Linked DNA regions of Homo sapiens: regions 1, 2, 3, 5, 6 and 7 are each linked to region 4. Evidence: fine-mapped expression QTL. A gene starts in region 4. Each other region holds a variant in brackets. All regions are shown on one strand. Distances are from middle to middle. Region 1 overlaps MAP3K20 (mitogen-activated protein kinase kinase kinase 20). Region 2 overlaps RAPGEF4 (Rap guanine nucleotide exchange factor 4). Region 3 overlaps RAPGEF4 (Rap guanine nucleotide exchange factor 4). Region 4 holds the start of MAP3K20 (mitogen-activated protein kinase kinase kinase 20). Region 5 overlaps MAP3K20 (mitogen-activated protein kinase kinase kinase 20). Region 6 overlaps MAP3K20 (mitogen-activated protein kinase kinase kinase 20). Region 7 overlaps RAPGEF4 (Rap guanine nucleotide exchange factor 4).

Region 1 (4,067 bases), 150 kb before region 4:
ACTTTGGGAGCTGTATCATATTCCTTTGTTGGTACCTGGTTTTTACATCCCACAATCAAGCCTCAGCAGTCAAGCAATTTCTGACATTTTCTCAGAGACCTAGAGTCTTCCTCAGAGTCTCAGCCAACATGAGGACTGTTGGATTATTAATGAAAATTCCAAAGCAACCACTTAGTAACCAGATCATGTATTATGCCTGTTCTCAAGGGGGAATTTCTAAGTGTTGAAAGATCTCATTTGCACAATATTTTAAAAACCAAATGTTAGCACTCACGGATGAAGAAGGACATGGGAAATTGGTACGGTCCTAAGAAACCCAGGCTGCAGAGTTGCTCTAACTAAAACAGATTAAAATACCTCCCTGTGAGGTTCACAAGTACAAATGAAGATGCCTCCAGAGGACTTCAGCCTGCACCATTTTCAGAGCCAAAGAACTACTTACTGTCTTCAATATATGCCCCATGGCCATCTAAATAATAAATGCTTACATAATTTTTAGAAGTCTGTGTGTCCTATAAGTCAAATTAGAGTTTGGTACAGCTATTAGCTTTAACTAGCCTAACTTGCCCCCCAAAAATGAATTGCTTATGAGATAATATGGCAAATTGTCACTCATCTTCTGTTACAAATATTTTCTTGTGAGTGAGTTTCAAAAAAAAGTTGAGTTTGGTTGCTTTTACTGTTAGTATAAAAATCATAGGGTAGGTGAGTTAACCTTTCTAACTTACAGGTATTTTGTACCCACATGCTCAAAATTCTGCTAGGAAAGGCACAGCCCCTGCCTTCAAGGAGCTTTCAATTTAACTGGGACTAATACAGTTATAAATTATACCTGGGGGATTCCAAGGTCACCTGAATCTCGGTTTACTTAATGCCTAACATAGTGCCTGGCATACGGTATCTGGTAAATTTTTGTTGAGTCATTTTAAAGAATGAATAAAATTAAAGGGTGCATTTACTGGAATGCTAAGTTCTCTGGTATAGAGTTCAATGTCTATGGGTATACCATAGACAGATGTATTCACAAAGGGATTCATAAAATAAGATGGGAGAATGGAGGGCAGCACGGCTTGAGCTGGGTCCTTCAGGGCAAGAAGAGAGGTGATTCCGGGTAAAGAGAAGCAACAAGGCAAAACCTGGCATGGCGGGAGAGGGAGGGACAGGAGGGAAGGATGGGAATGGAAGGCAGTGAGTTCATGTTGGAGGAAAAAGGGTAAATGAGGCAGACAGGGTGGGAAGGCAAGCGGAAAAACCCACTAGCTGAAATGGATATGAATGTTTAGGTTTGAGTATTTATAGACAAGTTGTCAGGACATAAAGTACACACTGAAATCGATCCTGTTCTGCGTATACTCTGCTACCTGCATGTGCTTCCCTTCCCTCCAGGGTTGCCCTTGCCTCCTCGGAAACACTTGAGGTGGGTAGGAGTCATCACACACATTCACTTGCTTTAATAATGGGGAAAGGAGAAAGATTTGAGGAACAGAATCTAAAGCTGAACTGGATCAAAGAAAAATAGGTGACAATTTTGTCTCTTCACAGGGCAGCTGGACACAGCTGCAGAATCATGCCATTCCCTTCTCCCATCACAGAAGCAAATGTGAAATA[C/T]GAAACTTTTTTGGTTCGTTCAAGAAACAACAGTCTGAGTTACAGAAATATTTTCCTGCATCAAGGCTCACCTTTATAGAAACTGGGTTGGGGGGAGGGGATGTGTAGTGTTATTTTTATAAAATTCCTAAATGTTGTACTAAACAAAATTGAGAAAGAAGTATTTTTTTGAATAGAATAGAAGTTGTAAATGAAATAACTAATCACAACCAGAATCTTTGGTTTTAATGTTGAAAGGAGAGGGGGTTGGTTGCACACTGAGGATGGTTCTCCAATACGATGCCTAGGGAAAGGCACTGGCTTCAGCTGGACGCTCACTCCAGCAGGATTCTTTGCACAATGCTAGCAAAGATCAGTGAGAGGAAGGCTGGAGCCAGGCACTGCTTCATGACAGCTTGAATTTGGCAAGACGGGGGATAAGAGTTAATGATCTCCAGCCACAGAGTGGCTTACCATTTCCTTTATGTTTTCTGTACCTTGTTAACATATCAGTGTATCTGCTGTAGGATGAGTTCTAAGCCTTTCTTTCTTTAGGGAATAAAAAAAAAATCCACCCCATGACTGTCCCATCACTTTACAAATTTATTATTTACACTCCCACTGACTTTAGGAGAGAAAAGCTAACACTTGTTTGCATGCGTGTGACAACGATTCCTTCAAAGGATGTTGGGAATCCAATCTAACAGGGATCTTATATACACAGCAACACGTAACAAAGGGATTTACTGTCAAAACGTTTATTGCAAAATGGAGTCTTAGAACAAAGGAAAGCAAAGAAAAGTTCACATCAAAATGAAATGTATGACACCAACTTGGATTTCTGAATACACTGTGGACTTTGTGCTGGAATATCAAATTCCAACTATAAAATCAGTAACTGAAATAGTCTTACCACACAAGAGTAAAATTTAATCTTCCATACAAACATTATACAAGATATTTGGCATAGGACTTGCTCAGAATAACATTGCAATAGAATAATTGAGAAAAAGTTTTTGTTAAAAAAACAATAAAGTGATAATGCCATCTATTCAAAGCTCACACTCAAAGAATATAAATATTTTCTATTATTTAGTACAAAAATTTTAAGAGTGCAAAAGCAATATGTGCAGTGTATCATATCTGACATTAAAAGATATACTATTCTGCACACAATATAAAATAATTAATGTAGGTGCTTGGAACTCTAGTTTTGAAGTAAATAATCACATGCCAGAAAGCTCCTCACAGGCAACAGAGTGCAAACAAAGGTGGAGTCTGAGAAAACACGGCTAGTCTTCTAGATTTCCTGATGGATACTCATTTTTCATCATAGAAATGCTGTATCTAGAGCTGTCAGGCTATGCTACAATCGAGAGGAGAGAATAGATTTTTATGTCTGGCGATGCTTAACACTTAAACAGGAAAACAGTCTTACTCAAAAGCAGCAAAAGGTGCCTGATTATAGAAAATTTATGCTCTGTTATATATGTGGTATGATGAAACTCTGCTACTTTCAAAAGGCTGCAATAAGTCTAGTACAATAATTTTTTAAAGTATTAATATTTAACTCAGAATAAGTTTTAAAACTGTCTTTCATAAAACTCTTACCATTCCAATGAAAACTCTGAAAAATAAAGTTGTACGCACAGTAATTCTGGGAGGTCATTCTGGATCACTCCTAAACCCTCCCCCGACCCCTAATTCCTTGATTTTTAATGGGGATCAAGTTTGACTACCTTAGCTGGTGTTTAAAAGTCTAACAAATTCACTGCACGTTAAAAATCACTGGTTAAAAACCCACCCTCAACATTTCCAGAGCACCAAAAACAGTGAGCTGTAGGCTTTCAACGTCTTTTCACTGGTTATGTAAAATAGTAAAATGTAATTTTGCTTTCAAAAATGAGTAGAAAAAGGAGGCTTTAAATTAACCTATAGAACTGTAGCTATCTCAATGAGTTTTTTTTCTTTTTTTTTTTTAATTGTGGAATCAGTGTAATGGGAAAGTGACCTGCCCTGGTGCATTTGGCTGTTTCATCAAGTTGCCACCAGCATTTCTAAGGAGAAAGAAACCATTTTTAGGGAAATGGTGATTTAAGATAAAGCCACGAAACTCACAAAATTCAGGTCGTATGCTGCCGTAATTCTAAAAATACATTTTGTTTTGACTTGGGTAATTTTGTTCAGGAGAAAAATAATTAGAGACGAAACTCTAAAGCTTCTGGATTTGATAAGTTTGTCAGTGGGGAAGGGACAATGCTACCGGGTTGTTTTTTTTTGTTTTTTTTTTTTTTTGAGATGAAGTCTCACTCTGTCATCCAGGCTGGAGTGTAGTGGTGCAATCTCAGCTCACTGCAACCTCTGCCTCCCGGGTTCAAGTGATTCTCCTGCCTCAGCCTCCCTAGTAGCTGGGGTTACTGGCATGTGACACCACACCCAGCCAATTTTTGTATTTTTAGTAGCAACAGGGTTTCACCATG
Region 2 (4,067 bases), 30 kb after region 4:
AAAGCATGTATTCAACCAAATGGACAGATTATAATTGATTTGACCTTTTAAAATTTGGTCACTAAGTGATCATCTTAACTTCTTTGTAAAGTTTTGGTTGCAATAAAGACTTAAAAGGGAATCTTTTGTGCTGAGCTCAATTAAAAACAAAAGAAAAGAGAAAAGAAAATGGACAGAAACAGAGACTCCTATCCCCTGGGGAAAAACACTGATGAGACCTACGCTCCATTTCTTAGCCAGAATGTCACGGTATTTGAACAATAGCTGGCACTCCTGGTCACTATGTATGTTTCAGGACACTTTACTGCTCAGGCTCTAAAGGGGGTCCTGTGGAGATAATAGATTAATTACAACACTAGCAGAAAATTGATAAGGCTCCACCCAGGGAAAGAGACTCCCCGATCTCTGAGCAGCTATGTAATTCTAGTCAACCCTTTCTTCTCTCACGGACCCTTGGCTTGCCAAAGTATAAGAAAATGACTTTGAGAAAGCTTACATAGTGTAAAAAAAAATCATAGATGAGTCAAGGCCTTACAAATATATTATCTGCAAGCATCATAATACCTCACTGAATACTACTGCTTTGAGGACTCTAGCAAGCCTGAAGTGACATGTACCTGCATTGGATAATTTCGCACACAAAGAGGCAATTGGAAAAGTTAGAACTTCACTTCATCAAAGATCGTGAAAACTGACACATCCATCTGTTGATCAGCATGAGAAACATATCACAAATCCCTCCCAGAAAATGTAACGTACAATGTATAATTAGCCCTTGATATATGGAGCCGTGAAATAAATAGTAACTATGATAACTTCCCTGCTAATTTACTTTTAAGTTGTTTTTTCACTTCTCTAAAGGCTTTGCATCTGAAGGGCACAAGTATATTCCATGTAGAATTATTGTAATTCTTCAGATATTGAATGGAGTGTAATTACCGAAAACCCTGGGAAATGCTGCCAGTATGCCCCTCTGAAGAATAATAAAACAATTAGCAGGGGTCAGAAACCTCTTCCTATACCATTTTGTAGGGAGTAATTGTTCTGCTTTTTAGTTTTGAAAGCTAAAACATTTCATTCTGACTTTGGTTTTATGCTACTCTTTAAAGCTATACTCTGAGACTTCATAATTTTTAGCTCATGTAGTTTAAAATGTGAGAACAATTGTTTAAATCAGTAATTTCCAGCCCTGAAGTTCATTCTACCTTTCTAAATCTTTGATTAATTTTAACAATGGTTTTAATTTTGACGTATCCTTTTTAATTGTTCTCAAAGATAACTTCAGTTTAACTTCGAAATCCAAATCTGGCTTCACAGCGAGGTCCATTCTTTTCCTTTGTGAGGTCCGGACAATAATGTTTAATGGTGTGAACCCACAGTGATGATGTGTGAATCTAACTAGCATTCCCGGTCAATGCATAGTTACAAATGCTTTCACAAGGCCAAAGAAGGGTTAACTTAATATTTTAACTTCACCTCCTTTTGCACCCATTAACACATGTAATATTAAGCAGTTACTGACAACTACACCCAACTACAAGGCACTCTCCTGAGTTGCTGAAAGAGACTTCAGGAGTCACCTCCTTGAACCATCTCCAGAGTGCATAATGCTTTTTCTACAGCCTGCCTATAAACAGTGGCTCTCCCACTGTTTGAATGCATCCAGCAATGAGTAACTCATTACCTCCAAAAATAGCCTGTTTCATTGTTAGACATCTCTGATTATTAAAACTTATCATTTTGAGTTAAAGTCTTTCTCCTTTTACTTTTCGCTCATTTATCCTTGGAGCTCATAATGCATTTGCATAAGACTCCCACGGGCACCATGACAGTTTACAAATGCCACGGCAATGACCCAACAGCAAACATGTTTAATTTCTTTTTAACAGGACAAGTCTTCAAATACTTGGATATAACTGTTATGGATATCTTCACACCCCCAGATCTTTTCTTGTTCAGCCTAAATATTCTCAATTTCTTCAACAATTCTTCATAAGACAGTTTTGGTTCTCTTCCAAACCGTCTCTAGTATGGTGCCCTAGACTAAACAAATTGTAAAGTGCAGAGAAATTATGATCTTTCTTCTTTCCTTGATCTAGATGATGCTATACTGGGCCTACAGTTAAAAAGAAGTCATGCCACTGACATCTGTTGAAGTATTCATGAATTAAACCTCTCAGCCTCCTTTGCTGAGCTGCTGTGGATGCAGCTTTCTGCTCTGTGCACGTACAGTTGATTTCTTGGACCAGAGTGGAGGATTTTAAAAACTAAAACCATCTAGTTAGAGTCTATCTTTCCACAAACTTCAGCCTATGTTATTTTTGACGGTAGACAGCTGTTTATTCATTGGTGCTCGCAGTCTAGCCTGGCAGAAACAAAGGTTAAAGAGATATAGGGTTCATTATCCAACTGCTGCAGCAGGGGTGAAACCAAAAATTACACCCTACGCTTCATGGTCCTGCCAGAGCAGGTTGGCCTGCCTGGAGCTGGCCAGGCAACTTTCTATAACGCCAGGCCGGAGT[G/T]GGGGAGTGTCTGATTACTCCAAAGCACAGATTCTCATCTTTTTTTCCCCAGTAGCCAGCCTGAGGTTTATGACACATTCCCTTGAGCAAATAGCTCATTAAGACAGCAACTGGTAATTCAGGAGTAAATGTGGGGCAAACATGCCCCACATTAGAGCGCCTCCTTTAGAAGGCGCTCCGGATCCGTGTAGGGGAACAAATTGAACCCCCCTGTCGCCACGCTTAAACTGATGTTTCTTGGGACTAATCCTAAGTACAGGTCTTCGGAGCTTATGTGCAAAAATGAATATGTTCCTACAGTTCGTGGCCTACAGGGCTTAGAGATGGGCCCAACTGAAAGCTGATGAATTCCCCTCAGGACATGCACTCGAGGAGGGAAGTGCAGAAAGGAAAAATGATGTGGTGAGTGAAGAACTCTGTGACTATGTCACGCGTCTATTTTTCTTTAGAGCTGAAAACAGAGGGGCACAGAAGTAGATGTCCTTCCTGGGGCCTGCGTTGCAGAGTGGAGGTAGAAGATCAGCAGGATTTGTTTTCCCAGCCTTGGTCACCACCCTGCTGATGTAGCAAAGAAACCAGCCCAAACCAGCTAGGACTAGGAATTATAATGCATTTGCATAAGACAATACTCACCCCCCCTCCCGCCCCCCGGCGCCATGACAGTTTACAAATGCCACGGCAATGACCGGGAAGCTACCTTAGATGGTTCCAGGAACTCCTGGCCCCTTTTCCAGAAAGTTTGTGAAAAACCCGCTCCTTAGTTAGCATGTAACTAGAGTAGGTATAAATAGAGCCGGCCAGCACTCTGTGAGTGCTACTCTGTGCTACCCTGCCTATAAGACAGCGCTGCTCGGTCTACAGAGCACTTGTTTTCCTGTATACTGTTCCTCTCATGAACTTGCTGTCTTTCATTGTCAGCTCGCTCTTAAATTCCTTCCTTAGGAAAGCCAAGAACTCTCTCCAGCTGAGCCCCAATTTAGGGGTCAGCCTGCATCAGAGTGACCAGTACAAAGACAGCATCCAGAGGAAGGGGTGACCACTGTCTGCACCTCGGCCTGGCACAAGCCAGAGGCTCTGAGGCCGGCATCCCAAACACAAATTTCCCTCAAGCTCTGATGCAGGGAATTTCCCTTGAGTCCGCTGAGGTGTCAGAGGTACCTTGTTCTCAGACTGGGCCTTTGCGGCCTGGCTCTTGGCAGGCGTCACCCTTCTGTGGTGTCCTCCCCTCAGGAGCAGGCCAGCCAAGTTCCACTTTCACTCCTATAAAGACATGACATAGCCTACCAGGACTTTGTGGCTGCCCCCACCTTCCTAGCCAGCTTGCACTGACTCTTGTGCCCTAGTCCAAGTTCCCCCTTTGCTCTCCCACTGCGGAAGAGAAGACTTCATTCTTCAAGTTCTGACCGGCAGGCCCTCCAGGCCACGCCACCTCATTGGTACCACTCTAGGACCTCCCGCTCCCAGACAGCGGCCACAATAGCCTTCCTCTTAGCCTATTATTCTGCCTCTGCTCAGATCCCTCAGGAAGCGGCTCCTCACCGTCAG
Region 3 (4,067 bases), 130 kb after region 4:
ATATAACATGATCACATTCTTCCTAGATTTAACCCTTAGGAAGCCCAATGATTTGAGTCTTAACAACACACAGTTGTCAATAGACAACCAGAGGCTTCTGGAGGTACAAGCTGAATGTCAAGTCTCAGAAATTTTCACAAATACGTTTAGGCAATGTATTAAATTCAGAATAAGTGAAGCACATTTAATGATACATGTTGCAGAATCTCTACAGTTGACTTTTTAAGTTAAGGTAATGAACAGTCAGAAAAATGCATACAGTTTTATAGGTAGTCGTTACCCACTTGTCACCTGTCAGTGTCAGCACTGATAAATCAGCAGGTGGGGCTTCTCAAGGTCAGAGGGATGCCCATGCCTCCTCTGTTGGCTGGCCCAAAATGATGAAAGGCACATCCGGTGGAACCGTTTTACATATACACAAGTATTTTATAGAGTCAGAAGGTTTGTGTTGGGGGAAGAAGGGAAGAGCAACAGTTGTCCAGGGTGGTTCAAGGAATCTTCCCAGAGGAGGTGGGATTTGAACAGGGTCTTTAGGATGAACAGGGCTTGATAGTGAGAGAGCAGATGGAATTGCAGGCTGGAGCCAAAGTCACACAGACGGGAGTTTAAGGCATTGTGAGTCCCCTAGTCTGGCTGTAGCCTACAGCTGGAGTTGGGAGGAGGTGAGAGAAAGTGTAGGAAGACAGTATATGTGATGATAAAAATTCACCATTGTTAAGAATAGATACAGAGAATCAGATTATCAATTGTAGTAAAGGCATATACTCAGGTATAGGTTTCTACCTTTTCCTATTTTTCCATTACATATAATGCATGCTTATTGGAAAGTATAAAAAAGTTTAATCTTCCAAAACCAACCAGTCAAAGATAATTGTGTTAATATTTTGGAATATTAATATTCAGCCCCTGTTTCTAAGTGTGGGTTTTGTTTTATTTTTAACTGAAGTGTAATCATACTTTATATAAAATTTTGTATCTTTCCTTTTTACATAATGCTAAATCATAAGCAATTTTACATGTTGCTATAAACTCTTTGTAACCATCAAAATTCCTTTAAATGTATACAGCATAATTTAACATTTTTTTTGTCAATGTGCCTTTAAGTTTTTAATGATTTGCTAGTAGTATTAATATGCTATAAACTTAGGCCAAAAGTTCCCCTTACCCACTCATATTTGGAATTATCTTCTCAGAATCAATTCCCTGAAGTAGAAAACCCAGGCCAGGGATTATGGTTCCAAATGCACATTGTCAAATTGTGAAGCTTGCATTGAAGGTAACTTTGGATGAGATATTTCTTCTGAATAAACTCTTAGAAAAGTGGTCTATCTTTGGCCACTTGAACATAGCCAGTGTCTTTATTAAGACTAATACATATTAATGTGGAAGAAATAGATCAATTAAGACAAAAATGTCCAACAGAAAAACACAAATAGATTCTCTTAATATTTAAATGCATGCTATGTAAACTGCCTTAGGCCATTATTTTAATAGCATAGTAACTCCCAGTTGGGAAAGGTAAAATAATTACCATGAAAAAAAGGTCTTTGTCCTACACTTTGAATTAAAAATAATGCACTCGATTGACTTTTGTATAGTCCTCTGCATGTGAGCGTATTTATCTGTATTGATTGAAAATTGTAAAAGACTTTTTTCTACCTCAAACAATCTAGTAGGCAAAAGCTACAATAAACATAATTTTAGTACAAATACAGGACAAGAATATACAAACAAATAATTCTGATAACCTTTAAGGACTCAGAAACCTGAGGGCAGTAGTATATTTGATCTAGGTTTGGCAAAATTCCTGGAATAGCAAAAACCTATTGATGTTTTCAAGAAACCTTTTAAGCCTTTGCAAGGCTCATCAAAACAAACATGATCAAAGTCCTAAAAGCATACCATATAAAATATGGAAGCAAATCAGAAAAGTAGCATACTACATAAAATATCAAGTTCATTTCAGATCAGGTTCATAAACCAGGTTCCCTAAACATAGTTTTGTTTTCTTTTATCATCAAGTTGCCCTAGTACAGATGATGGTTTCAATTAGATATGCCAACAGTATTCTAAAAGGCCAAAGAAATAAGTAGCATGATATATTAAGTTCTAAAATTTGATTTCACTCATATTTTCCTCCCTTCCCCTTTCTGTATTTTTCTAATTTCCAAGAATGTGTATAAGAAGAAAAAAAAACCCACAATAATGAGCTGATGGAGGCTCACGCATACTTTAGAAACCTGGCATTTCTACCTGGAGGTCACAGTTTTTTTATTCAAAGTAACTTGAAAGGTTTAGACATACTTGCAACATCTGCAAGTACAATGAGAAGGAATCAAATGTTCTTGTGTTCTTTTATTGACTAGGAACTTAAACTGTGGACATAATTTTTTTTGGAAGTACGACGAGGATTGTAGCTCACCCTCAGGACAGATTTTCACAGTATCTCTTC[G/A]AGAAAGGGGAAATGTTCAGCTGAAGATGACACAGCTACAACAGCCCCTTGATTAAAGCTTTCAGTCAGACTGGGGTTAATCACTCTAAGATCAGCCTGTTTTGAGAGAAATCTCCAAGTATCTCAATCCCATCTGCTTCCCTTATGTGAGGCTCCAGATTCTGGAAGTGTTGGGTTTTGCAGCCATGAAACAGAAACAGCCGAAGTGTGGGAAGGTAGTCAGTCATGACTCGCTGTGCTAGGACACAGGCTCACCCTGGGCACTTGCCCAAGATAATAAGAGGACTCCACTGCTTACCTGTTTTCTTGCCTCTATCTCTACCTAACATGGAAACACTACAAATCTCTGCTTTCTGCCCCTTAGGACTTTCAAAATGGTGGGCTGCATTTTAAAGCAAATCTCTTCCAAACAAAGACAGAACTTTCAATACATGACTGTCTTATCGCATAAACCTAAAGGGATTATTGAGACCTGTCAGTTTCCTTCTTTTTTTCTACAGTGAGGCTCCTCCCAGGATGCAGACTGGCAGCCTGCATTTACCAAGGGTGCATTTACCAAGAACAGAAGGAAGGACGGAGCAGAAGGCAGCCTAAGATGTTCCCGTGTGTTTGGCTAGAAGTGAGGAAAACCTGTTCCATGTGATTTAATATCTATGTATTAAGTGTTTTTATTTTAAAATTTCATAAGTAAAATGCCTTAGGTGACTGACTGTTTGCAAATCCCATAAATAATTGATCTATTATTATCTGGTAATGTCATTGCTTCTTCTTACTCAAGTAGCCATTTGGAGAACTATTTCTCCCTAATTATCATTAGGAGGTTAACCTCAGTGATCTTACCATATTTTTAAAGAAGAAGCATGTGGGAACCTTTATGAAGATATAGAACAGAGAAAACTCTGAGAGGATGTGGTTCATGCAACAACTGTTCTCAGGTTATGAAAGCAAACGCATATGCAAGCAAAAACAGCGGGTGAAAGGCAAGACAGCGAAAGGGTTTTCTTGTCTGATTTTGGGTTGTGGGGTAGGAGTAAAGCCATTCCATTCTTATCTCATTTGTTTAGGGTGCTTCAGCACAGGAATCCAGAGGCAGGGATGCCCAAGATTTGAAGTATGTTCTGAAGACAAAGGAAGGTTTGTGGATTTCTCCTATAAGAGACTATTCCAGGCTCAGGCAAGGGTAAGAACAAACATTTATCAAATGCTGTGTGCCAAGTGAGTCACATCAGTTATCTTATTGAATACTAACAACAACCCTTTGATGAGCTCCCATTACTCCCATTTCACAGATGAGGAAACTGGCAGCTCTGGGATAGGAACTCTCTGGTTAACCACTTGCACTACTGTCTGCTGCCCTCTGAGGAAAGAGTCCTTGCTTACCTTCCCCTTAAAGTAAAGGCAATTCTCTAAAAAGAGCCATTCTGATCATGTCATTTTTCTAGTTATACACAGTGCCTCCCCATTCTTCTAGGAACAAATCCAAACTCCTTACCACTGCTTCAAAGTCTCTTCAGAACATCACCTCTGCCTGCCTCTCCAGCCTCAGTGGCTCCCTTCTTCCTTTTTAGCTTCTCAAATATGCCAAACGCTTTTGTTTTGGAGGTTTTGCCCCATC
Region 4 (4,067 bases):
TACAAATGACCATAACCATAATTAAAATGCAGCCATCACTTTTTTTTTTTTTTTTTTTTGGAAAATTGAAAAACAAGTGAAATTTCACTGTGGAGATAGGCCTACTACAAAGAGGACATTAACTAGCCTTGAATCACTTGTTTATTTTTGTCTTTAAACGTGTTTGGAGGTTTGGATCCACTAAATCCTAGCTGTTCATTTCAACGAAGGTCGAGGAAGCAAGAAGGCTCTTCCAAAACAGCTTCGGGGTTAAAGAAGGAGTACAGTTTTCAACAATCTTAAGTCAAACATCCTCAAATTCACTCTGTAAGACGATTCTCACACACCAGTATCGAGAGCTGCTTACTGTACCATACTTGGAATGGGCCCCTAAATTGTGTTGCTTTCATTATTACAGAAACTAACAAAAATAGTAATTAAGTTCCCCATAAACAGTACTTATGCGCGATCTCAAAGCGCATCAGAAACATAACATTTTCAGCGATCTAACAGAGATAACTTTTTAAAAAAATTTTTTAGGCAATCGGATGTCATCTAGCCAGTCCTGAATTAAAGTTTTCTGAAAGCTGTCATGGGCAAGCGAGGCCAGACGAGGCGACGGCCTGGGTAAGCACTTCTGGGCCTGGTGCAGGTCTGGGAGCCCACAAAAAGCCGCTGCCTGAGGGTCGCCAAAGGAGACATCCCCGGCTCCGGTGGGAGGAAAGGGGGAAGCCCGAGAGGGCGGGCGCTTCATGCTGCCCAAGCCCGGGGCAGGAAGGGCGGGGAGCGGTGGCTCTGGATACATTTACGCATGTTTTTAAAACTAATCTTTAGTGTTCATTGTTCCTGCTGGTTATTCGCATGGCCTAATTGTGTGAGGAAAACAGAATGAAGGAAAATGGATGGGAAGCAACACCGCTCGCGGTCGAGTTCTTAGAAAAGCAGAAGTTCGTCGTCCCTCCTCGCACGCACAGCGAGTGCTGGGAAGTGGCCTGCACCCTACCCTGATTTGGGGGCCTCGCGGTTCGCCTCCCGACAGTGCCCCAGTCACCCGCTGCTTGGCCGGCTCTGCTGCTCGCGGAGCCCCTGCCCGTGCCGCACGCCCGGGACCGCGAAAGCCGGGGCCGCTCCGGCCTGCGCCCGCGCCTCCAGGCGCCAACTTCTCCATGGGACCGGCCCGAACTCTCCCGAACCGCACTTGGCGGCGCCGCGGCCAAGGTCCCGCGAGGACTTCCCGGGCGCCGCGAACGCTCGCTCGCTCGCCCGCCCGCTCGCTCCGGCCGCCGCCGCCGGGCGGGCCCTGGGTCGGGGAGGGGAGCCCCGAGGAGCCTCCCGAGGCCGCCTAGACTCCCGGGCTCCGGCGGAGCCTCGGCCCCGAGACGCAGGGACGACTCGCGAGCGCGGCGGGCCTCGCCCCCTCCCTCCCCGCCCTCCGCGGGCTCCAGCCTGACCCCTACCTGGCTCCCGGGCGGGGCGTGAGCAGCAGCCGGGGGCGCGGAGGCCCCGCGCGCGACGAGGGCGGCGGGGGTTGGGACGACAGCGGCCCGCGCGGCTCCCACGTTTCCGCTGCAGTTAGGAGTTGAACATTCCGCCTCTCTGCACGGCGCCAATGAGGAAGACAGTCACGGCAACAGCACCACCTACCTCCCGGCGCGAAACGGCTGGGCCGCCCTCCCCTCACACGCGCGGGCGAGCGGGGCGTGGGGAAGGCGCTCGGGCCTCCCTGGCCTGCGCCCGGGGGGCACCATCCGCCCCGCGCCCCGGCACCCGCCGAGGCCCCCAGACACACCTGCCTTGCTGTGGGGGGAGGGCCGTGGGGGTGTTCCCCCTCGCCCCCAGCACCTTAACTCATCTTTTTGACAAATTAACACCACCTGCTACTCCTTCAACTCAGTCTTCAACAAACAGGCGCTGGGGACGCAAAGAAATAGAGGCTGTTTTGTGCCCCGCAAGAGTTAATTCTCTAGTTGGGAAAGGCACAAACGTAGAGATTTCTGGGAACATAGGTCTGAAGGCTGCCTCTCTAGAAAGATCAGTAGGTACCTCTGGAATTTTGAGGAGGGGCCGTGGTCTGCTGCTCTAGTTGCTAATTTTAACAGAGCAGAATTCAGAAGAGGAGCCAGAGTCCGTTACAGGCCTAAGCCAAAGGTGGAGGTGGGCGTTGGGAAGAAAAGAAATTTCTGATTGGGGAGGATGGTTCTGTGAAGGAAAAGTGAGAGGAGGTTGCAAGGGCATGGGCAACATTATTCAGGATTTTGAATTTGAATTTTATTATCCATGGACACTGGGAGCTGTGAAAAATTAGAATCAAAGGGGTGAAATGGGGGTTTGTGATTCTGTTTAAATGGTAATTTTGAGAGAGTAGTCCACAGTAGTTGTAGGTTGGGTTGCTAGGATGGAACCAGGATGAGTAGTAGATATTGTCACCACCCGGTTGTGGGATCATGAGGACCTGAGTTAGGATGTAGGAAATGGAATTAAAAAGAAGAAATGGGCTGGGCATGGTACCTGTAATCCCAGCACTTTGGGAGGCCAAGCTGAGAGGATTGCTTGAGACCTGGCTGGGTAACACAGTGAGACCTCATCTCCAAAAAAATCAGAAAATTAGCCTGATGTGGTGGCATACATCTATAGTCCCAGCTACTCGGGAGGCTGAGGTGGGAGAATCGCTTGAGCTGGGGAAGTCGAGGCTAAAGTGAACCACAGTCGCGCCACTGCACTCCAGCCTGGATGAAAGTGAGACTCTGTCTCAAAAAAAAAAAAAAAAAAAAAAAAAAAAAAAAAAGAAGAAATGGAATTGAGAGAAATATTAAACGTTTCAGCAAGAGGCCACAGAAATTGGTAACCCACAAGATTTAGAAGAGAAGAAGAAGAGAGATGATGCCAAGATCTCAGACCTGGATGACTGGAAGAATGATGGTGTCATTGACAAAAATAGGAATACGTGAAAGGGAAGCTGGCTTCATGTTGAGTTTGAGGTCATAGGAGTAAAAACAGGTAGAGATGCAGCAACTGAAATATGAAACTGAAATTCAGGAAAGAGGTCAAGAGTGAAATAGAAAATTTGTAAGTCATTCAATAGGTTAAAGATATGAAAGTTGAGGGATGAATGAGTAGAGGTTAAAAAACAATTTATTAGTCTGATTAATTTGCCCTTTGATAAGGACTGGAGATTTTAGCATTAATAAATTTTATTTTGGTAACTGAGAAATTAGAATTGATGAAAATTGCCATGCTAAAAAAATGTATAATGCAGGTCTAATAAAATAATTCAAATAATTCCATCCTATCCATTCAAGGAAAAACTAAGGCTCTTTAGCATAGACCCCAGGCATAGGAAGACTCCAGTCATTTTACCTTACCTTCAGAGGCACTTGTTTGTTTTGGAAAGGACCCTAGACTGAGAGTCAGAGAACCTGACTTCTGGTCTTAGAGCTACCAGTTATCAGCTAGAGTGCTTTGCAGGATAGGCCACAGTTTCCTCCTCTGTAAAATAAGAGGGACTAATTAGAAGTTAGTTGCAGGTTCCAGCTTTAAAACCATGAATGTATTGCTTTAAATTTGGAACACATGGCTTAAGAGCATCAATATTTTTAGCCACATTGCCCTTGCTTCCCATCCCTTTGCCTTCATTCTGTTTTCCTCACATAATTAGGCCAAGAGAATAACCAGCAGGAACAATGAACACTAAAGATTAGTTTCAGAAACATGCTTAAATGATAATCTAGTAGACATTTTCTTGTCTTCCCAAATAGGTTGCAAGCCCTTTGAGGTCACATCTTATATTGTGTGGTATCTGCATATGTATTGTCCATAGCTGAAATAAATATATAATGATTGTATGATAAACTGATTGCCTCAAGTTTGGTTTTTCTTTTGTCAAGCTGCCTGTTTCCTATTGATTATACTGATCTTTTTAGGCCCCAGACCTAATAAATATGGTCTAGTATGTATTCTCAACACCGACTGCTTTTTTGAACTTTCAAATCTTTTTTGAATTGGTTAATGCTCACCAGGCAGAGTTTAGGTTTACCCGTGTGAAAAGCAATAACAAAAGAGACCTAGTCAAACTTCTCTTATCAAACCTG
Region 5 (4,067 bases), 160 kb before region 4:
AAAGGTAGCATTAGTGTCGGTAAGAAAAACCTTACTTACCTTAATTAGTGGTGGGAAGTGAAACAAATTTATGTAATCATGGGTTAATTTCTCAATGGCTGACTGTAAAAAAAATCATATGACTTTATTAATGATCCAGTAATACCAAGAGAAGACTAAAATCATTGGGTACAAACAAAAACATTCCTTATTTACCTAGTTCATAAAATATCTTGGGGGCATTTATATCCAACGTCTATTTAGAATAAATCTCATTGTCCAAAGCAGTGTAGGTGGTTTGTAATTATTTAAAGGACCAGAAATTTTTAAAAATTTTTTATTTTGGAGACCAGGTCTCATTCTGTCGTGCAGGCTGGAGTGCAGTAATGCTATCATAACTCTCCACAGCCTTGAACTCCTGAGCTCAAGAGATTCTTCCATCTCAGCCTCCCAGGTGGCTGGGACTCAGGCACACACCACCACACCCAGCTAATTTATTTTATTTTTTGTAGAGATGGGGTCTTTGTGGCCCAGGCTGGTCTTGAAATCCTGGCCTCCTGCCTTGGCCTCTCAAAGTGCTGGGATTACAGGGATGAGGCCAAGAAAGAAGACATTTTAAAGATGTTGAACCTCAGACTAAGCAATAAATAAAACAATTTTTCAAACGCCGCCAGAGTATAGTACTGAGAAGTGGATGTTCTGTTGTACAGAATGCAGGTGCCACTCTGAATAACAGTGAGCAAAGCAGCACAGCACATAACACCAGACTTTCAGGAAGGCTAGAATCTCACTAAAAGGTTGATTGCATTATAAGAACATTTCTTTGGATATGTGTCCAACATCCCCTCTGCCAATGAAACACAAATCTGAAAGGAAAGGAAGACAATTTAAATGATGATTTTTTGGATACTCAGCAGGCACAGTTCAGATTTTCTAAGAACTGATTGCAGAGAGAGTAAAAAAGTACCAACCTGAGAAAATTAGATGCATTTTATTTTAAAGCAAAATAAAAACTGTTGACAGCTGACAATGTAATGAACACTTATTGGGTGTTCAGTCCTACTTCTTACACTCTACTCCTCCACACGAGGGCTTGCAGGCTCAGAGAAGAAGGGAGCCATGGTCAGGCTTAAAGGGAGGGACAAACACAAAGGAAAAGAATGGGTGGGGGCCGCGTGCGGTGGCTCACATCTGTAATCTCAGCACTTTGGGATGCTGAGGTGGGCGGATCATGAGGTCAGAAGTTCGAGACCAGCCTGACCAACATGGTGAAGCCCTGTCTCTACTAAAAATACAAAAATTAGCCAGGTGTGGTGTAGCCTGCGCCTATAATTCCAGCTACTCAGGAGGCTGAGGCAGGAGAATCGCTTGAATCCGGGAGGCGGAGGTTGCAGTGAGCCAAGATCGCACCATTGCACTTCAGCCTGAGCGGCACAGTGAGACTCCAGCTCAAAAAAAAAAAAAAAAAAAAAAAAAGGTGGATATACTGCTCCACTGTCCAGTTTGATCACCTACCATTTAAGGACTGAGAGACTCTTGGAGAAAGTACACAACAATTGTGCCTTCCTCAGTGAAAGCACAAAGAATAAAGGAAGGATGCATTCTTACCATCAGGCTGTGTGTGAGAAACACTTCTGACAAGGACCAGGAGGACTCCTCCAGCGTGGAGCTACTCATCCCCAAAGGCCCAGCTTGGAGCATTACTTATCTTAATTGAGAGTCTATGCAGGGCCCTCCTAGAGTAAGTGCACATGACCCTTTCCCTTTATCTTTCCCTCTCATATAAACTTGTTGGAAATCCCCATGCTCTGGCTGAGTTTAGTGGTCACCTGTTGGCTGAGCCCCCACTGGGTAGCCATTCTTACATACAGCCCCAGCCTTGGCAGTAAGGGGGAGGGGTCCGCATTCCACACTTTGGAGACTGCCCCTCTGTGAATGACTGTCTTTAGAATGACTGAGTGCAGACTCACTCAGGAGTTTGAGGGCAGTGTTAGGTCCCCCAACAGATGCAGGCTACTCCTTCATTTGGAGCTCTGGGCAGACCCTCTGCAGAGGTCATAAAAAGAGAACATTACACTGACTCCACTCTAGTGGGTCAAATAATTTTTTTTTTACTTTTAAGTGGCTGCTTCCAACAGGGCTTTTTCTCTCTGCATATTCCTTGGCTTCTCTGCAAGCTTAGACCCCTGTCCCCTGTCCCTGCCTTTTTTTTTTTTTTTTTTTTTTTT[TA/A]GACAGGGTCTCACTCTATTGCCCAGGCTGTAGTGCAGTGGTGCAATCATAGTTCATGGCAGCCTCAACCTCCTGGGCTCAAGCGATCCTCCCACCTCAACCTCCCAGGTAGCTGGGACCACCACAGGTGTGCACCACATGCCTGGCTAATTTTTGCATTTTTTGCAGAGGCAAGGTTTCGCCATGTTGCCCAGTCTGGTCTTGAACTCCTGGTTTCAAGTGAGTTGCCCACCTTGACCTCCCAAAGTGCTGGGATTACAGGCTTGAGCCACAGTGCCTGGCCCTTAGACCCTTTCGACCACCGATTCTATCTTAAAGCTTTTCCAACGTTTGACTTTTGTAACAGCATTCTCTCCTCATTTCCTACTTTGTGGACAGATATTCCTGTCTTCCTCTTCACTTTCCTGGCCACACACATCCTTTCTGCCAAAGACAGAAAGCTTCCTAGCTGGAAGAAGACTACTCTTGGGCAGGGTGTAGAGGTGCCTGTGCTTTCCTTTGCTTTATTATTATTTTTTAATGAGGTGAAATTCACATACCACAAAATTAACCATTTTAAAGTGGGCAATTGAATGGCATTTAGCACATTCACGATGTTGTGCAACCAGTACCTCTATCTAGTTCCAAAACATTTTCATCACCCCCAAAGGGGGCTCTACTCCCATTAGGCAGTCAAGAACCCTTGCCTCCTCCCCCTAGCAGCTGGCAATCACTGATTGCTTTCTGTCTCTATGGATTCGCCTATTCAGGATGTCTCATACAATATGTGACCTTTGTGTCTGGCTTCTTTCATTTAGCATCATGTTCAAGGCTCATCTATGCTGCCACACATATCAGTGTGGAGTCCTAATAAGTAAGCAACAACGAGGAGGGGGTCCCAGGTGGGGGATAACAGTTGTTCTGAGAGACGGCTAATCACAGACAATCACAACAACCTGTTCCCAAATACCTCATTCTGCAAGTAACTCCAGAAGCATGACCTCGTCTGCACACCCTATCTGGACGTAGCCCCTCCAGTATGATCCCATAAAACTTCCCTCAAGCCCCTGCCTCTTGGCAGACAGCCCCTTCTCTGCTGTGCTGCCCATTGCACCCTTGCAACACATCTTCACACTTTCTCTAATAAATCTGCCTTTCTTTACCTACGACTGTCTTGGTAAATTCTTTTACTGCCTGCGACAGCGGCCCCAGCCAGTCCGTCCACAACAATCAATACTTCATTGTGCTTTCCTTCTTGAGCCTGAGAACAGCCCTCTTACCTGTGACATCTTCCCCTTCTCTCCATTCGCGTTTTTGCTACACTGCAGTGCTTATTATTCTCCACATTTATACCCTCCTGTTTTTTCAAAACCCAGCCTTGCCTTTTTAATACATTTTAAAACTTCCAGAAGCAAAGTGTAAACCTGTCAATTCTCAATACTCCCAACAGCTGGTCAAATTCCAGCTCTTTCCCCCCAGCCTGAAGTTGTAAGCTGTCCAGGATCCGGCCCCACCTTCCTTCCACTTCAGGTGCCATGCGTTCTACTCATCACCCGTGTTCTGCAGACGGAGCTGCTTATGCTACGTAGGTCGGGACTCCTCTTTTCTGTTCCTCCACATTCTCTTCCATTTCTCTTAACTCTTTGTTCTCTCTGTCTAGATTAATGTTCTTTCCTTTCCTGGTCTACATTCCAAAATCTGTCATTCCTCCAAGATCCGGCTCAAGGGCCACCCACTCTGTGAAGTTTACCCTCTCCATCTCCCACCATGGCCTCTCCCAAGTCCGGGTAATGAATTGGTCCTTTCCTCCCAGTTGCCAAGGGGATGCTGTGTGCACGTTTAATCTTTTCTCTGAGATGTAAATTCCTTAACCACAGGTT
Region 6 (4,067 bases), 190 kb before region 4:
GCTTGGTACCTGCAGCACGTTTCCATGCCTGGGAGGTATTGTAGCCATTTCATCAATTAATTCTCAGAGCTTAGTCTTATTTCCCTTATTGTCAAGTTCTTGGGCAGCACTGCACTGTACTCACAGAGCACCTGCAAGGGAGTGGGTTTGTCAGGGTGAAGTAACGGTGCAAGAGAGTGTGTGATAAAGGGCCTTGGAGAGGAGCAGAATGGAGAAGTGGCTGGAGCTGTGGGGGAGGTCTCCAGGGAGGCAGGACTTCAGCAGGACCCTGAAAGCTGAGTAAGTTTCATCAGGGTGGTGGTAGGCAAGGAGTTTCTCTGGTAGATTTGAGTAATGGGACATTGGTTATAGAAACTGAATCTTGATTTTAGTGTTGAATGAACTATGAGGTTATAAATCTTTTTCATTCTGTAACTCTGTTGGTTCGGTCATGCATTATTTGGTCAGCTGGTACACTAAAGCCTTGACAGTTTTGACCCTCCATTTGGCACTTTTTCCACTTTAGCAATCTCATAAGCCGGTTCCAATAACAGCAAATAGTAAGAAGCTGAGTCCAGGTCTTTCGCTCTAATTTCCCCAGGGCACCCCAGCTTCACTGTAGTTTCTCAGATCCAATGATGGCAAGAGAGTTGATACACCTCCTAAGTGCAGTCTCTATAATTTAAAATTTCAGGGAGGTTACATCCTGAACAAGGTGGCACAGCTACATCATGACATCTTAAAATTGAGTAGTTTCTGAGAACCAGAGTTGTAGAAGCATACCACATCTGTACCAACTTGTTGAAGTAAAAGGATAAATTGTAGAGAAGGTACTTAAAAAGCTTATCAAATATAAAATATTTTGGTACAACTGAATTGGAAAAGTTGCAGTTAAGTCAGAATGCCTTGAGGTGTATCCAGGATGTTTTGACCCTGCCATTTTGAACTATTGGAGATTCTGACCCTACTGTTTTGATCCTGGAGACATTTTGACTTTACTTATACATGAAACATTTTGATCGGAATTATATAAATATTGAGAAATGTTTTTGTCAAGAAAGCATTTCATGGAATGAATGTCATGTCAATTTAATTTCCTGATTGGTTTCCTATCCAACATAATGCTGTTTCCCATTTGTGTATTATTTTTTTCAGGCAAGTTCCCACTCTGTCACCCAGGCTGGAGTGCAGTGGCATGATCTTGGCTCACTGCAGCCTTAGCCTCCTGGGCTTAAGAGCTCCTCCCATCTCAGCCTCCCCAGTAGCTGGGACTACAGACATGTGCCAGCACACCTCGCTAATTTTTGTATATTTTGTAGACACAGGGTCTTATTATGTTGCCCATGTTTCAAACTCCTGGGCTTATGGGATCCTCCTGCCTCAGCCTCCCAACGTGCTGGGATAACAGGTGTGAGCCACTGCACCTGGCCAGATTTTTTATTGTACTGATTTTTTTCCCATGGAATCGATTATTTTCAATTTTAATTTTACAATGAAGATTTGCATATCAATTTTTTGTTGTTATTCATACTGCTCGTTACCAATTATAGCTTCTGCCACTGTGAGTTTTCGTTTATAGTTACTGTTTCTTACCTAATTTTCCCAGGTCAGATTTTACTGTTCTGAATTTTACTGTAAATAGTTTTAAATATTATACTTTTTATTTTTATGAGCAATATTCATTATAAATTGGCTGAAAACAATTGCTAATTGTATTTCTTTCAGAAGTAGTCCTTGATTAAAAAAAAAATCTCCAGTTCTCCTA[G/A]ACAGATTTGGGATTATCCAGTTATTCAGCCTAGGTCCATGGTATTGCTAATGTGGTGACTGTGCAAAGAGCTAAACATCCTGCTTTGTCTGGGCCTTGCCTGGACTAAAGACTGCCTCGATGGTAGCAACCAGTGTAGACTTGGCACTTCCAAACTAGCTCTGAAGCCTATTTAGGGAAAATCTCCACATTTAGAGGTTCCCTGTCCAAGATATACTCTTTCGATTTGGTTCTACTGTAATTTTTTTCTCCTAATCCTAGAATAATATCCCTTTCCTTTTTATTTTCTTCTTCTTTTTTTTGGTCTTAACCACCTCACTCCTTGCAACTAATAGTTTCTCATTGTTGGCTACTAATTTATTTTTATGGGGAAAAAAAAATCCTGTTAATCCCTGCTTTGCTCTTGACTTACATTGATCTTTCAACCTGGCAAGTGACTTTTGGTGAATAAGCATCATTAGGAAAAGAAAAAAATAGAACATCCAACTTATTATTTCTTTACAGTCAAGAAGCAGACTGCAGATGTTCTTACTCTGATTTTGTCTGGGAGCATTGATGCTGACAAGTATTTTTCCATGAGATATTACAAAGTGGTCAGTTTTGTGGGCTGGTGGAATAACCTCTTTGCAGTCACTGACTGCACTAAATAGGGCTGAGATCATTGAGTTATTTTATTACCAGCTTGGATTCCCTACCCCATAACCGAAGAAAGCAAGATGGAAGAAAGTGGCATGAAACTAGCAACGATCTGCATAGTGCCTTTTAAACTAGACTCTTCAGCAATTCCCCAGAATGCAAATTTTGTTTCACAATGAAGGCCATACTTTGTGTTCCTTTCAGAGTGACTCGGTCAAGACTGTTCATCTATTTATCCAAAAATTCCGATCACAGAAAATATTTTATTGCTTATTTAGAAACAGCATGATATTAAGATAGCATATTTTGCATTAGTCTACTTTAAATGAAGGACAAAAAGCAAAAATAATTGAAAACAGGCTGTGCTTGATAGCTTCATGAGAAAGAATCATGGTGGAGCTGAAAACCTTAGAAGTTGGTTACACATGATGGAAAAGAGGCCCTCACTAACTGACTACACCATTCCCATTGCTTTTGCTTGTAAATACATCTGGCACCCAGTAAAACTTTATAAAATCAAGTTGTTGAATCAATGTTTAGGTGATGACAACTTCCCTTGTAAATAAAGGTCATTTCCTATAATTTTGACTTTAGTATTGATTGATTGATTGATTGATTGAGACAGGGTCTTGGTCTGTTGCCCAGACTGCAGTGCAGTCACGTCTCACTACAGCCTTGACCTGCCAGGCTCAAGTGATCTTCCTGCCTCAGTCTCCTGAGTGGCTGGGACTACAAGCAAATGCCACCATGCTCAACTAATTTTTGTATTTTTTTGTAGAGATGGTGTCTCCCTATCTGACCCAGATAGGCTGGTGACCCAGGCTGGCCTTGAACTCCTGGGCTCAAGCAATCCTCCTGCCTCAGTCTCCCAAAGTGTTGGGATTACAGGCGTGAGCCACCATGCCCCACCCACGTTGACTTTAATGCTACCGAAATACAGTTTTCCCCACCAGGCCTCAAGTAATGTATCACACACAGCAGGGGAGCTACCCTGAGAACAAATGCATGTACTCTGATGACCAGCTTCTTTTAAAAAAGAATTCAAACCCACAGAATTAGAAGAGTGTCCTCTGGATTTCTACAGAGCACTGAGAATCCTATGTAGGGCTTAGTGAATGCTAAACAGGGTTAGTGAATGCTGAACAGAATCTCAGAATATTGAAAGTAACATTTATTGATTTGACATACAATAAGTTTGTTGCTACCTGACTTTTTGGTTTGTAAAACATGAAGCATTTCACAAGTTGGATCCCACCATTTCTGCCCTAAGCTGCAGACAGTCTCCTTGCACCCCCACTGGTTTACCTCTTTGCCCACAGCTGCTCAGAGCTGTCTTGCTGCAAGGCTGATATTTACTGTCTTACTCCAACAAGGATGTTGGTAATTTTAAATTTCTCTGGCTTTTAGCTTGTGATGTTATTGTCTTGCTCTGTGTCTGTTTTCTTTTAGATTTTAGATTTCTGACATCCCAAGAGGCCTTTATGGAGTGTTGTTTTATCCTCTTTGCTCCTTTGGTGAAATTTAGAAAATAGTATTTGAAAGCAGTCGCTGGGAACTTAGGAAGAGAAAGAACCACAAATCTAGGCAATTTAAATCTTTGGTTTCTGATAAATCGTAATGAATGAGATATGCATCATATTCAACATTAAATTCAGTAACTTTTTTTATTACTGAAAAATGACAAGCC
Region 7 (4,067 bases), 110 kb after region 4:
AAGCAATTAGCAATGCAAATCTCTTTGAAAAAGTTCTGTGTAATGAGCATTAGCACTTCTCCAGAGCCTGTCATCTGAAGAGCTCCACATGCTTTCTGGCTTCCTGTATATTCACACATTAGTCCCCAAGATGCCCTTCTGTGGTGAGTTGGTCTGGATAAGCAAACTGCATACATTAGTTAGGAAATGCATAAGTATATACACTCACATATTTGGGAATACAGAAATTCCCCATGGGGTGAGAGAAGGGGGCAGGTATCCACAACATGATGGTTCAAGAGAGGAAATAGAATCTTGAAGTCCTAGTGATGGCTCAATCCCAAGGGATGATGGAACAAGGCAGGGAGTCACAGAGCAGCTGGCTGCCTGCAGCTGGGACTGAATCACTGGTGGCCTCCCTTCTCATACTAAGCACAGCACCACCTCTGGGGCACGGGCTAAGGAGCTCCTCTCTAGTTGAAATTGGAGGAGACTCATGGTTCTGTGCCACTTTGGGAACAATCTTGAAGTGGCGGGAGACATGAGATACAGAACTAGGTCTGCTACTTAGCTATGTGACTTTGGCCACATGGTTTCAACTCTCTGGTTCTCACTTTCTTTGCCGTAAAAAAAAAAAAAAAAAAAAAAATAGGAGGAGCAAATGATGGCCTCTAAAGCCTTTTCCAGTTGTAATAATTTTAATCTTAGACCTCTGAAATCTATCAGAGGAATTGTGGGATTCCTTGATTTGGGGTTGACCCTGACTTCAGAATATTTCACAGGGAGGGTGTACTGAGAAGGCCATTATATTTCCAGGACTGCCCTTATTACAGTCTATACCCGCACATTAGAGCTTCAGTGGGCACAGTCACCTACTTATAAATCATTCTGAACCAAACATAAGACCTTCCATTATATTTCTTTCCTAATTTGAGAATTGATTAATCGTAAAAATCATGTAAAAATACATAAAATCAATTTCATTTGGCTTTTAATTCAGTGATTACCTTTACAAAAAAAGAGTACACAGACTCGAGATGATCCCAGAGCGTCTGATGAGTCCTTACAAAGGGTTTAAGAATCTTGCAGTCAGAATACTGAACAAAGACACACAGTTGTGCTACTTGCAGCTGATGGAATCACAGGTATCCTTTCCATTAATGATCCCTAGACGATTTAGAATTGACAGCAGACCGCTAGTATAGTTATTTTGGGGGGTTATGCTGCACCAGGAGAGGCTTCAGCCCCCGAATACTGTGGCAATAATATAATGGAGTGAGAAGCAGGAGGGAGAGAGAGGATGGAACTGGAAAGTATAAGATCTGGGACAAGGAACTCAGACTGTCCTGCAGAAAAAAGAAATCATGCTTCTGGCTTCCAGTTGAGTCCTGTGGTTATTCCCAATAGGTCATTAATTTGTGTCACAGGGCATGGAACAGACATAACACCTATATTTCAGGGGTTTAAAATCTTAGTACAATGGAGCACAAAAGAGATTATGGTTTCTAACTTCTAGTTTCCATTATCTATCATCAAACATGACATATTTTAATAAATTTTCCCTAATGCAAGTCAATACTTGGCAAAGCACAATCACATCTTAAATTATGGAAAAAAGTAATACAATTTTGAAAAGAAAAAGTTCCTTTAACCATATGAGATCTTTGAGATCCCCTGAATGAATTTAAAAGGTTGAACTCTCTCTGAAGACATATGACACATTGATTTATTTATTTTAACCTTTACTTTTCTCAAAATTATAGCAGTATGTAGGGGGCCTGATATGGTTTGGCTTTGTGTCCCCCACAAATCTCATCTCAAATTGTAATTTCCATGTTTCAGGGGAAGGGCCTGGTGGGAGGTGATTGGATCACGGGGGCAAATTTTCCCCTTTTGCTTTTCTTGTGATAGTGAGTGAGTTCTCATGAGATCTGATCATTTAATAGTGTGTGGCACCACCCCCTTCTCTATCTCTCCTGCTCTGCCATGGTATGATGTGCCTGCTTCCCCTTTGCCCTCTGCCATGATTGTAGGTTTCCTGAGGCCTCTTAGTCATGCTTCCTGTTAAGCCTGTGGAACTGTGAGTCAATGAAACCATTTTTCTTCAAAAATTACCCAGTCTCAGATAGTTCTTTATAGCAGTGTGAAAACAGACTAATACAGGTC[G/C]ACAGACTAGAAAAGGAATCAACTTCTGGTGTTGGAGAACAGGACTTACAAATGTAAACATCCAAAATAGTAGTTAGTTAATATCAACATAAAAAGGGCTAAGTAATCAATCTGTCCTAAGAGATGGAATGTGTCTTAAGTGGAATATGCTACTGATGACACTAAGGCACTTTCTCAAGTCTCATCTCATTTCCAAAATTCGGTCAACAAGAGGCCAATCTAAATGTAATACACTGTCAATTTTGGTCTTCTAACATATTCATGCCAAATGCAAGCAGAAGAGTATTAGTTTGCATGGAGTATAGAAAAAATAATCAGAAGAGGAAGAATTTGCAATATATTTTTCTATCTCTGTCCTTGAGTAGGTTTGCTTTAAGGTGAACCCTGTAGATACTAGATCTAGATCACATTCAACTAACATTTATTGAGCACTTATTTATGCTCAAATTCCTGAACCAGAACCTTTGTAGATTCTATCATAGTTGGTAGAAGACATGCATCCTTCATGGTAACTTTGAAATTTGTATTCTAGTTTTTCAGTGTGTCTTATGAATTTGGTTCCTGTGAATCAAATGGGTTTTGACTCATGCCAATGCTGATGGGTTCTGAGGTCATGTCTAGGCTAAATGGGAAAGAGAGTCTCACTGATTGCTGAAAGAGGGCAGTCATGTCTGAGCCCTGGGTTTGGGAAGACAGAGTGAAGGTCTGTGTGCCACATATTGGCAATTCTAGTTCCTCAACACTTGCTGAATTGATCAAAAGTTGCTGAATTCTGAAAATCAAAAGTTAGGGATTAGACTCGAGTTCTTAACTGGCCCACCATGGTTCAGTCATCCCAGAAGGTTCAGCTAACCATGAAATCTCTGCCTTTATCTCTGTCATTTCTTAACTCCAGTGACAACTATAATTAGGAATCCATATTCTATATGAATATATATGTGATACAGAGTTGTGTATCCTACTGTATGCATGCTACGATGGAATCCTACATTAGAAAACAAGCTCTGTAAAGGACTTTGCATATTTTGTTCACTGCTGTATTCTTAGAGCTTGAAACACAATAGTGCCTGGCACACAGTAAGTGCTAAACTTGTGAATAAATCAATGACTGACTGAATGAAATGATCACTGAATCTGGAAATCAACCAACCTTGGTTTAAATCCTGGCCCTGCCACTCACTAGACTTGTGATTTGGACAAGCAAAACTAATTTCTCCAAGCCTCAGTTTTGTTATCTGAAAAATGGTCTACATGTCTAGCAGTGTTATGTGAATGAAATGAGCTAATATATCAAAAGGGACCTGGTACAGGTCTTTGAGTATAAATAAGTGTGCAGTCAATGTTGGTTGAATGTGATCTAAATCTAGTAGGCTTCCTAAAAGTCACTAGCAAAAAGAAATTACAAAAATTTTCTTCTCTTTGTTCATCACAACTAAACCAATATCCAAGCAACTTAGTTTAGGAGGTGCTAGGAATATTAAGGATAATTAAACAACTGCAGTTAAGCTGAGATGTAAGACAAGCCTAACCTTCCAGAACCTGAAGGCATTACAAAATGGGCTGCGCCCACATGGAAAACAGGGAGAAGCATTTTTGTTCCATTTTCACTAAACATGAATATGAGCGGGGCACAGCCTTTAGAATTAGCACACATACCTGTATGTCTTTAGGTGGTATTTTCTATCTCTTATCATGTGAGGTGCTCGAGAGAGAATGGCATTTCGTAAAATTTTTCCAGCTCTGAGGATCTTCTCTGAAGGGACCTGGATTGTAATCAGGTGGAAGGAGGGGAGGAGAAAGAAGTGTTTATAGAAGGAAAACAAACCAAACAAATCCTGAAACCACTTTCCAATCTGACTCTGGCTTGGAAAACATAACTCACTCAGTGCTTTACTTTGTTCACTTGTGTGATATGTCACTGG

The links. PIP is the estimated chance that this variant, and not a neighbour inherited with it, causes the effect.
Region 1: its variant is the best candidate, but not a certain one, in a credible set for the expression of MAP3K20 in blood mononuclear cells (TOPMed, PIP 0.86).
Region 2: its variant is the best candidate, but not a certain one, in a credible set for the expression of MAP3K20 in sun-exposed skin (GTEx, PIP 0.80).
Region 3: its variant is the best candidate, but not a certain one, in a credible set for the expression of MAP3K20 in whole blood (INTERVAL, PIP 0.58).
Region 5: its variant is the best candidate, but not a certain one, in a credible set for the expression of MAP3K20 in monocytes (Fairfax 2014, PIP 0.84).
Region 6: its variant is the best candidate, but not a certain one, in a credible set for the expression of MAP3K20 in B cells (CEDAR, PIP 0.67).
Region 7: its variant is the best candidate, but not a certain one, in a credible set for the expression of MAP3K20 in whole blood (TOPMed, PIP 0.84).

What each region holds. Positions count from the first base shown.
Region 1 is chr2:173,225,409-173,229,475 of GRCh38, reverse strand. All of the region lies in intron 11 of MAP3K20 (mitogen-activated protein kinase kinase kinase 20), which reads right to left. All of the region lies in intron 2 of MAP3K20-AS1 (MAP3K20 antisense RNA 1), which reads left to right. Among named protein-coding and RNA genes, the nearest start is that of MAP3K20-AS1, 55 kb to the left of the region's middle. The variant C/T (reference allele first, on the strand shown) is at 1,609.
Region 2 is chr2:173,043,373-173,047,439 of GRCh38, reverse strand. The region is part of intron 29 of RAPGEF4 (Rap guanine nucleotide exchange factor 4); the gene reads right to left. Among named protein-coding and RNA genes, the nearest start is that of MAP3K20, 30 kb to the left of the region's middle. The variant G/T (reference allele first, on the strand shown) is at 2,523.
Region 3 is chr2:172,943,104-172,947,170 of GRCh38, reverse strand. The region is part of intron 6 of RAPGEF4 (Rap guanine nucleotide exchange factor 4); the gene reads right to left. Among named protein-coding and RNA genes, the nearest start is that of MAP3K20, 130 kb to the left of the region's middle. The variant G/A (reference allele first, on the strand shown) is at 2,453.
Region 4 is chr2:173,073,372-173,077,438 of GRCh38, reverse strand. It overlaps MAP3K20 (mitogen-activated protein kinase kinase kinase 20), which reads right to left and starts at 1,593. Exons shown (of 20, transcript NM_016653.3): 1 at 1,437-1,593. RefSeq lists silencers at 1,029-1,768, 1,849-1,898.
Region 5 is chr2:173,234,408-173,238,474 of GRCh38, reverse strand. MAP3K20 (mitogen-activated protein kinase kinase kinase 20) reads right to left here. Exons shown (of 20, transcript NM_016653.3): 15 at 40-102. All of the region lies in intron 2 of MAP3K20-AS1 (MAP3K20 antisense RNA 1), which reads left to right. Among named protein-coding and RNA genes, the nearest start is that of MAP3K20-AS1, 46 kb to the left of the region's middle. The variant TA/A (reference allele first, on the strand shown) is at 2,208.
Region 6 is chr2:173,267,479-173,271,545 of GRCh38, reverse strand. MAP3K20 (mitogen-activated protein kinase kinase kinase 20) reads right to left here. Exons shown (of 20, transcript NM_016653.3): 20 at 3,531-4,067. MAP3K20-AS1 (MAP3K20 antisense RNA 1) reads left to right here. Exons shown (of 8, transcript NR_033882.1): 2 at 1-35. Among named protein-coding and RNA genes, the nearest start is that of MAP3K20-AS1, 13 kb to the left of the region's middle. The variant G/A (reference allele first, on the strand shown) is at 1,745.
Region 7 is chr2:172,960,963-172,965,029 of GRCh38, reverse strand. RAPGEF4 (Rap guanine nucleotide exchange factor 4) reads right to left here. Exons shown (of 31, transcript NM_007023.4): 8 at 3,802-3,908. Among named protein-coding and RNA genes, the nearest start is that of MAP3K20, 110 kb to the left of the region's middle. The variant G/C (reference allele first, on the strand shown) is at 2,146.